Homo sapiens: one gene and its partner. The protein of the gene in region 1 interacts with the protein of each later gene in a pairwise test. Each region holds a gene or a part of one and is shown in the gene's direction. Other genes may lie near its edges.

Region 1 (3,500 bases):
TGCGAAGAGCGCGCGCGGCCTGGGAGGGTCTGATGAGTGGGGCCTGTGAGGGGCGGGTCTTGCGGGAGGGGTGGGGTTTGTGGGTGGGGCCTTGCTTGTGTGGGCGGGTCCCGGGTTGTGGGTGCTTTTGGAGGCGGTACGCGCTGCAGAGGGCACAGGGGTGCATCCGGACAGGCCTGATAGGGCTACTCCTGGCCTCCCCAGATCCCCTTGGAAGGTGACGTCCATCAACAAGAGCCCCCAAAGGTGAGCAGGACTAGGGCAGGTGCTGAGGGGCGTGGCTTTGGGGGCTGGGCCTTGGCTCTGACTCGCTCTCCCCAGGGACTCAGGGCGGCACCGCCGGGCAGCTGGGCCCCTCCGGCTGGGGGGCAACAGCTCGGATTTCGAGATCCAGGAGGACAAGGTGCCCCGTGAGCGAGCGGTGCTGAGCGGCCTGCGCCACTTCACGGAATACCGGATCGACATCCATGCCTGCAACCACGCGGCGCACACCGTGGGCTGCAGCGCCGCCACCTTCGTCTTTGCGCGCACCATGCCCCACAGTAGGTGATCCACACACACACCTTCTACCCCCATCACCGACCCCAAGGACCCTGTGCAAAGGTTTGGGGTTTGACTTCTCGCTAACCCCAGAGCCTCGCTTTGCTTGCCCCTCTCAGTTCCCATAATCCCAAAGCTTTCCCCACCTCCCAGCTCAGCCCAGTTTAGCTTGGGTTTGAACATAAGGTGAGATGAACCACTTTTGGCCCGGCTGCTGGATGCCCCTTCCCGCAGGAGAGGCTGATGGTATTCCAGGAAAGGTGGCCTGGGAGGCCTCCAGCAAGAACAGTGTCCTTCTGCGCTGGCTCGAGCCACCAGACCCCAACGGACTCATCCTCAAGTACGAAATCAAGTACCGCCGCTTGGGAGAGGTAGGTGCCCGTGGGACCCCCGTCCCAGCCCCGTTTTGTGCCTACATCGCCTTCCCAGCCAGCTGTTCTGCGTTACTCTCAGGAGGCCACAGTGCTGTGTGTGTCCCGTCTTCGATATGCGAAGTTTGGGGGAGTCCACCTGGCCCTGCTGCCCCCTGGAAACTACTCTGCCAGGGTTAGGGCAACCTCACTGGCTGGCAATGGCTCTTGGACAGACAGTGTTGCCTTCTACATCCTTGGCCCAGGTATACACAGCCTCTGTCACAGACCTGTATCACCGAACAGCCCTACCTGGTCCCCAGCCCACCACAGGCCCCTCCCCCGCATCCCTCCCCATCCTCACCTCCCAGCATGGAAAGAGAAGCATGACCTTCCCTCTGACTTCTACATCTTTGACTCTACCCTCTGCTGCCCTCTGACTGCCAGAGGAGGAGGATGCTGGGGGGCTGCATGTCCTCCTCACTGCCACCCCTGTGGGGCTCACGCTGCTCATCGTTCTTGCTGCCCTTGGTTTCTTCTACGGCAAGAAGAGGTGATGATAAGTCCCACCGGTCCCCACCCCCTTTTCTCCCTGAGCCCTCATCATAAAGTCTGTCAAAGGGAGGTAGATGAGACAGTAGAAAGACAGGTCTTCCATACAGGCAGTAACTCTTCCCCTGCGGTGGCACAGAGGAAACATACCTCTCAGTTAGGGTGACCAACTCATCCCGGTTAGCCTGGGACTTTCCTGGTTTTATCAGTAAAAGTTGCACATCCTAGGAAACCTCTCAGTCCAGCCACACTGGGATTGTTGGTCACCACACTCTCACACCACCTGTCAGGTGTGAGAGTTTGTGCACCCAAGCTGAAAAATAATAGAGCTGTCCCTTATTAGGAGAAGAAGCAGGAGGCCTGGGGATGTGTTCCAGAATGCCTGATGTCAGATCCTTCCAGGGCTGACTGCAAGAGGAAAATGGGGCTGGACCTCGATCAGCTTGGCTATAGGGACTAGCTGACAGGGCGGAAGCCCCTTTACTCCTGTGTCCTCCCTATTCCCTGTTAGATCCCAGGAATAGGGCCAAGGCCAACTTGGAGGGTACTTAGGGATCCCCAGGAGTCACCCTGACCAAGGCTGGGGGTGTGGTCAGTAACTTCCCTCCTCCTTGAAATGTCCTTCTTCCTTCTTCTGATGTTGCTCATTCCTTCCTGAGAACCCTTCCAGCCTGACCCCCTCACCTCCCGTTGCAGAAACAGAACCCTGTATGCTTCTGTGAATCCAGAGTACTTCAGCGCCTCTGATAGTAGGTCTGGGAGTGGGTGGACAGGTGGTGTGGGAAAGGGAGACAGGAGAGGAGCAGAGACAGACTTCCAGAAGACCTTCTTGCAGAAGATAGCCTTGGGACAAGAGCCCTTCAGAAGAGGAGAAGAGAAGTTGGGGGGTGAGGTGTGGCAGAGAGCAGCATCCTCGCTTTGTGACCCTCCACCTCCTTGCAGTGTATGTCCCTGATGAATGGGAGGTGCCTCGGGAGCAGATCTCGATAATCCGGGAACTGGGCCAGGGCTCTTTTGGGATGGTATATGAGGGGCTGGCACGAGGACTTGAGGCTGGAGAGGAGTCCACACCCGTGGCCCTGAAGACGGTGAATGAGCTGGCCAGCCCACGGGAATGCATTGAGTTCCTCAAGGAAGCTTCTGTCATGAAAGCCTTCAAGTGTCACCATGTGGTAAGGGAGAGCCAAGGGCATTGTCAGGGTCATAATTAGTGTAAAGGTCATGTGGTAAGAAAGAAAGGGTCAGAGATGAGGTTAGGGCACCATTAAGGTCAAGATTGGGACCATGGTTAGGATCCTAATTGGGGTAAAGGTCATGGTTAGGGTTAGAGTCAAACAGGGTCATAGTAGGGCCACTGTAGAGTCATGGCTAGGGCTGAGATCAGTCATGATTGGGGCTCAATATTGGGTGTCCAGATCATTATTAGAGTCCTGATTGGGCTCAAGGCCAAAGTTGGACCAAGTTCGTGACTGTGATGATCATCAGATATGATGAAGGTCATGGGTTAGGGTCAGGGTCATTGTTAGGTCAGGAGTCAGGTTATAGTCATGGTTGGGGTTAGGGTCAGGTTTGGTGTCTGAGTCAGACTGTGGTCATAGCAGATCAGAATTTTGGCCAAATGGGTCAAGGGGAACTAGGGGGTCTGCTAGGCCCTTTGTCTGTCCCAGGTGCGTCTCCTGGGTGTGGTATCTCAGGGCCAGCCAACTCTGGTCATCATGGAGTTAATGACCCGTGGGGACCTCAAGAGCCATCTTCGATCTTTGCGGCCTGAGGCAGAGGTAGGGACCAGGAAGACCCTGGGGAGTGAAAGAAGGGTTGGGCACAGTGTGGGAGGTGGGGGCCAGTTCTGGACAGGAGACCAGCCTCTGGGTTCCTTCCTCACCAGCCCCCAATCTTGGCTCTAGAACAACCCTGGGCTCCCACAGCCAGCATTGGGGGAAATGATCCAAATGGCTGGTGAGATTGCAGACGGCATGGCCTACCTTGCTGCCAACAAGTTTGTGCACCGAGATCTAGCAGCCCGCAACTGCATGGTGTCCCAGGACTTCACCGTCAAGA
Region 2 (3,500 bases), on another chromosome or scaffold:
ACCCCCCACCTGGGATCTGCTGAATCAGCGCATGGGCAGGTGGGTCAGGCATGCATGTGTTCCAAATGCTCCTTGTGGCTCTGACAGGTGCCCCTGGAGAAGAGCCAGGTAGGCACAGCAGTGGCCCCAACTGCCTGTTTTGCCCCGAGCAGGAAAATTCCTCTTGGTGGTCCCGTTTTACTGTATGTTAAAGATCTGTGGCTCTTCAAGGGGAGTCCTAAAGTTTTCAGAGTAAATGGACAGAGTAATGATCCATCCTTGTTTACCCAGTAATGGTTACAGCCAATATTTATAGAGTACTTGCCATAGGCAAGGTACTATTCCTAGCATTTTATATCTCGTATCTCACTTAGTTCTCCTGACAACTTTTCCTTTCCAATAAGAGGAATTAACCTCACTTTACAGATAAGGAAAACTTTCACAGGGAGAGGGAAGGACTTTGCCCAAGGGTACATGGCTAGTGTCAGCCAGACATTTGCATTGTCTGGCATTTCACTTTTTTTTTTGAGATGGAGTCTTGCTCTGTCGCCCAGGCTGGAGTGCAGTGGCGCGATCTCGATCTCAGCTCACTGCAAGCTCCACCTCCTGGGTCTATGCCATTCTCCTGGCTCAGCCTCCTGAGTAGCTGGGACTACAGGCGCCCGCCACCACGCCCGGCTAATTTTTTGTATTTTTAGTAGAGACGCGGTTTCACTGTGTTAGCCAGGATGGTCTTGATCTCCTGACCTCATGATCCGCCCGCCTTGGCCTCCCAAAGTGCTGGGATTACAGGCTTGAGCCACCGTGCCCGGCCTAACATTTCACCTTTTAGAGTGCTTTTGAGTTCATGATTCAGGTGCATGCTTCAGGTGAAGCCACCTTTTAAGGGACCATGCAGGGGAAACCTTTCCAGATTGGCTTATGAGGAAACTGAACCCCAGAGAATTGTGCCCTAGCAAGGCCACGGAACTGTTGAAAAGCTGAACTGGAGCAAGAGCTGGGTTTCCTGACTTCTAGATCAGTACTTTCTCAAGTGGACTCACCTATACGGCTTGGCTGGTCATAGGTGAAGCTGAGGGGTGTGGGGGGAGCAGCAGAATGTCCCTGGAGATGGGTGCCTCCCTGGCAGACTCCTTCCATTCCTTCTGCAGAGGCCAGCCATATGAAGGAGGAACTGGTTGGCCAGCCTCAATGAGTGTGTATGTGTGTGTGCGACTGATTCGTTTTTGTGGAGTCCCGGAAAACATCATTTCCGGTTTGGCCCTGTTACTACCTCTGAAATGAGTTAGAAGAAATCTCTATGGTCCCTTTAATGTGAACATTTTGAGATGGAGACTGAGGTAAGAGTATGAAAGTACTTTGCACTTAATGAGTAGCAGTTGACACTTACAAAGCTTTTGTTAGGACCAGGACACTCCCTGAGCTCCCTGCAATTCTGACACTGAGAAATAGGTAGTCTTCCCATTTTGCAGATGAAGAAACTGAGGCCCATGGCTGCATACCTTACACATGGCAGAGCCTAGATTCGAACTCAAGTCTGGGTGCCTTGTGTCACCACTGTATTTTTCCCTGGTCAGAACAGATACCCTTGCTTTGTCCTGTGTCCTCACTGCTTTCTCCAGCTCACGTTTGTATCAACCTAAAGCAGGCCTACATACCTGGAAGGGAAAGAAGCAGTGGATTCTTCCTAGGCTTCAACTATATCTAAGCATTCCAGGAGTCAAGGGCACAGCACTAAGGCAGGAACTTGAAACACTCACTGAGAGGTTGTCTGTGTGTAGCCCCTCCCACAGGGGCTTGTTATACACCTCCTTAGGGGGAAGGAGGGGTAACTCCAGGTAGGCAAGTGTGGTTTCCAATCCCTCACAATGATACCTTTGCTCTGGCTGGTGCTACATAGGGCAGGGTCTCCTGCTGAGGCAGGGGCAGGATCCAGTCCTTTGAGTTTTCTTGGATGGCATCTCAGGCTTGTCCCTGCTGCCCTGTGGGCTATTAGATCACTTCCTGACATCCCTCAAGAGTCCTCTGGAGTGGGGCTTGCAGGGCTGAGCCTGCAGCTGACTTGTCTATGAGGAAACGCCTCCTCTGTCTCTGGTCCAGGATCTGCTACTTATGGAGGCCCACCCCAACCCAGCACGTTTTTAAAGTACGTTGGAGCTGCCCAGGAGGGTGTTTTGGCAATACCTCCTTTAGAGGCTGATTCTGAAATCAGCGTGCTTTAGAACTGCCAGAAATCCCCTGCTCCCAAAACTGAGTCCTCTTACCTCTCTAGCTGAGGTCAGAGAACAGATTGCTGAAGGGGCAGAGACAAGAAAGTGTGTGACCTGTGACCCTCGCCCCACAGGTGGCATTAAGGACTCAGGTCTGAAAGAAGAGACAGCCATATAGGGAGCTCTCCTGCCCAGGGAAAGGGAACTAATGGAGACACTGGCTTAGGTAGAGCTGCCCCAGTTGCTGGTGCAGAGAGGGCACCAGCATACAACATGCTGGTATGGGCCAAACAGCATGGCTAAAACTGCTTTTTAATTTTTTAAATTTTATTTATTTATTTATTTATTTTGAGACAGAGTTTTGCTCTGTCCCCCAGGCTGGAGTGCAATGGTGTGATCTCGGCTCACTGCAACCTCCACCTCTTGGATTCAAGTGATTCTCGTGCCTCAGCCTCCGGAGTAGCTGGGATTACAGGAGCTCACTACCATACCCTGCTAATTTTTGCATTTTTAGTAAAGATGGGGTTTCACCATATTGGTCATGCTGGTCTCGAACTTCTGACCTTAAGTGATCCCCACTGCCTTTGCCCCCCAAAGTGTTAAAACTGCTTTTTTCAAAAAATGCCCATGCAGTTAGATACACAGCTACTTTTTGGAACTTCGGGAGCCGGTGCTAAGCTGGGTCCGGCCCTGCCTTGCTTGTTAGCTGTAGAGAACAGTGTCAGTGGCCAGGCATGAAAGCAGTACACCCTCCCCATTGTTTGCAGTCTTTTGTGTGTGGGGGCTGTCTAGGCATCTCACCCTCTTTTGTTCCCTGCCGACTCACCTGCTGGTCCCAGGAGCTCTTCCGTCCACCTGGCACTTTAGGGCATGTCCATAGCCAAGGAACAGATGCCCCTTGCAGAGGACCTGGGAGGACTTCTCTCCATGGGGGAGTCCCAGTCAAATGTGTCTTGGCTGCAGGGTTCAGGCAGCCGTCCAAGAAGGGCCGGAAATGCTCCAAATACTCTCCTTCCTCCAATAGCTGAGAGGAAGGAGGCCCCTCAGAGGGGCCATTTTATAGTGATAGCCAGGCTAAGGCTAAGTCCTTTGCTGTGGGGGATGGGAGGTGGTGGGGAAGGAAGTACTTCTGGGGATGAACCAAAAAAGAAAGCAACTTTCTACCTGAATGGGCTTGTTAAAATCTGATTGTCTCAGAGGTTACCTTCTGCTGAATCGCAGGCAGATGTGTGAGGAGTTCCTTTGCTGGGACACAAAGCTGTGTTGTTGACAAAAGTGGTATCTGGACCTGACTTTCAGGAGAAGATTAAA

Evidence for each region. Proteins that work in one complex are often made in the same cells at the same time.
Region 2: the proteins of INSRR (region 1) and CTDSP2 interact in a two-hybrid assay, tested with the Homo sapiens proteins (one study listed by BioGRID and IntAct).

The regions. Positions count from the first base shown.
Region 1 is NC_000001.11:156,842,118-156,845,617, reverse strand, and holds part of INSRR (insulin receptor-related protein precursor), read left to right. Parts: intron 1-204; coding exon 205-246; intron 247-321; coding exon 322-542; intron 543-774; coding exon 775-911; intron 912-993; coding exon 994-1,156; intron 1,157-1,337; coding exon 1,338-1,443; intron 1,444-2,138; coding exon 2,139-2,191; intron 2,192-2,384; coding exon 2,385-2,614; intron 2,615-3,109; coding exon 3,110-3,220; intron 3,221-3,346; coding exon 3,347-3,500. UniProt on the Homo sapiens protein: Receptor with tyrosine-protein kinase activity. Functions as a pH sensing receptor which is activated by increased extracellular pH. Activates an intracellular signaling pathway that involves IRS1 and AKT1/PKB.
Region 2 is NC_000012.12:57,836,730-57,840,229, reverse strand, and holds part of CTDSP2 (carboxy-terminal domain RNA polymerase II polypeptide A small phosphatase 2), read left to right. Parts: intron 1-3,015; exon of another isoform or gene 3,016-3,139; intron 3,140-3,500. UniProt on the Homo sapiens protein: Preferentially catalyzes the dephosphorylation of 'Ser-5' within the tandem 7 residue repeats in the C-terminal domain (CTD) of the largest RNA polymerase II subunit POLR2A.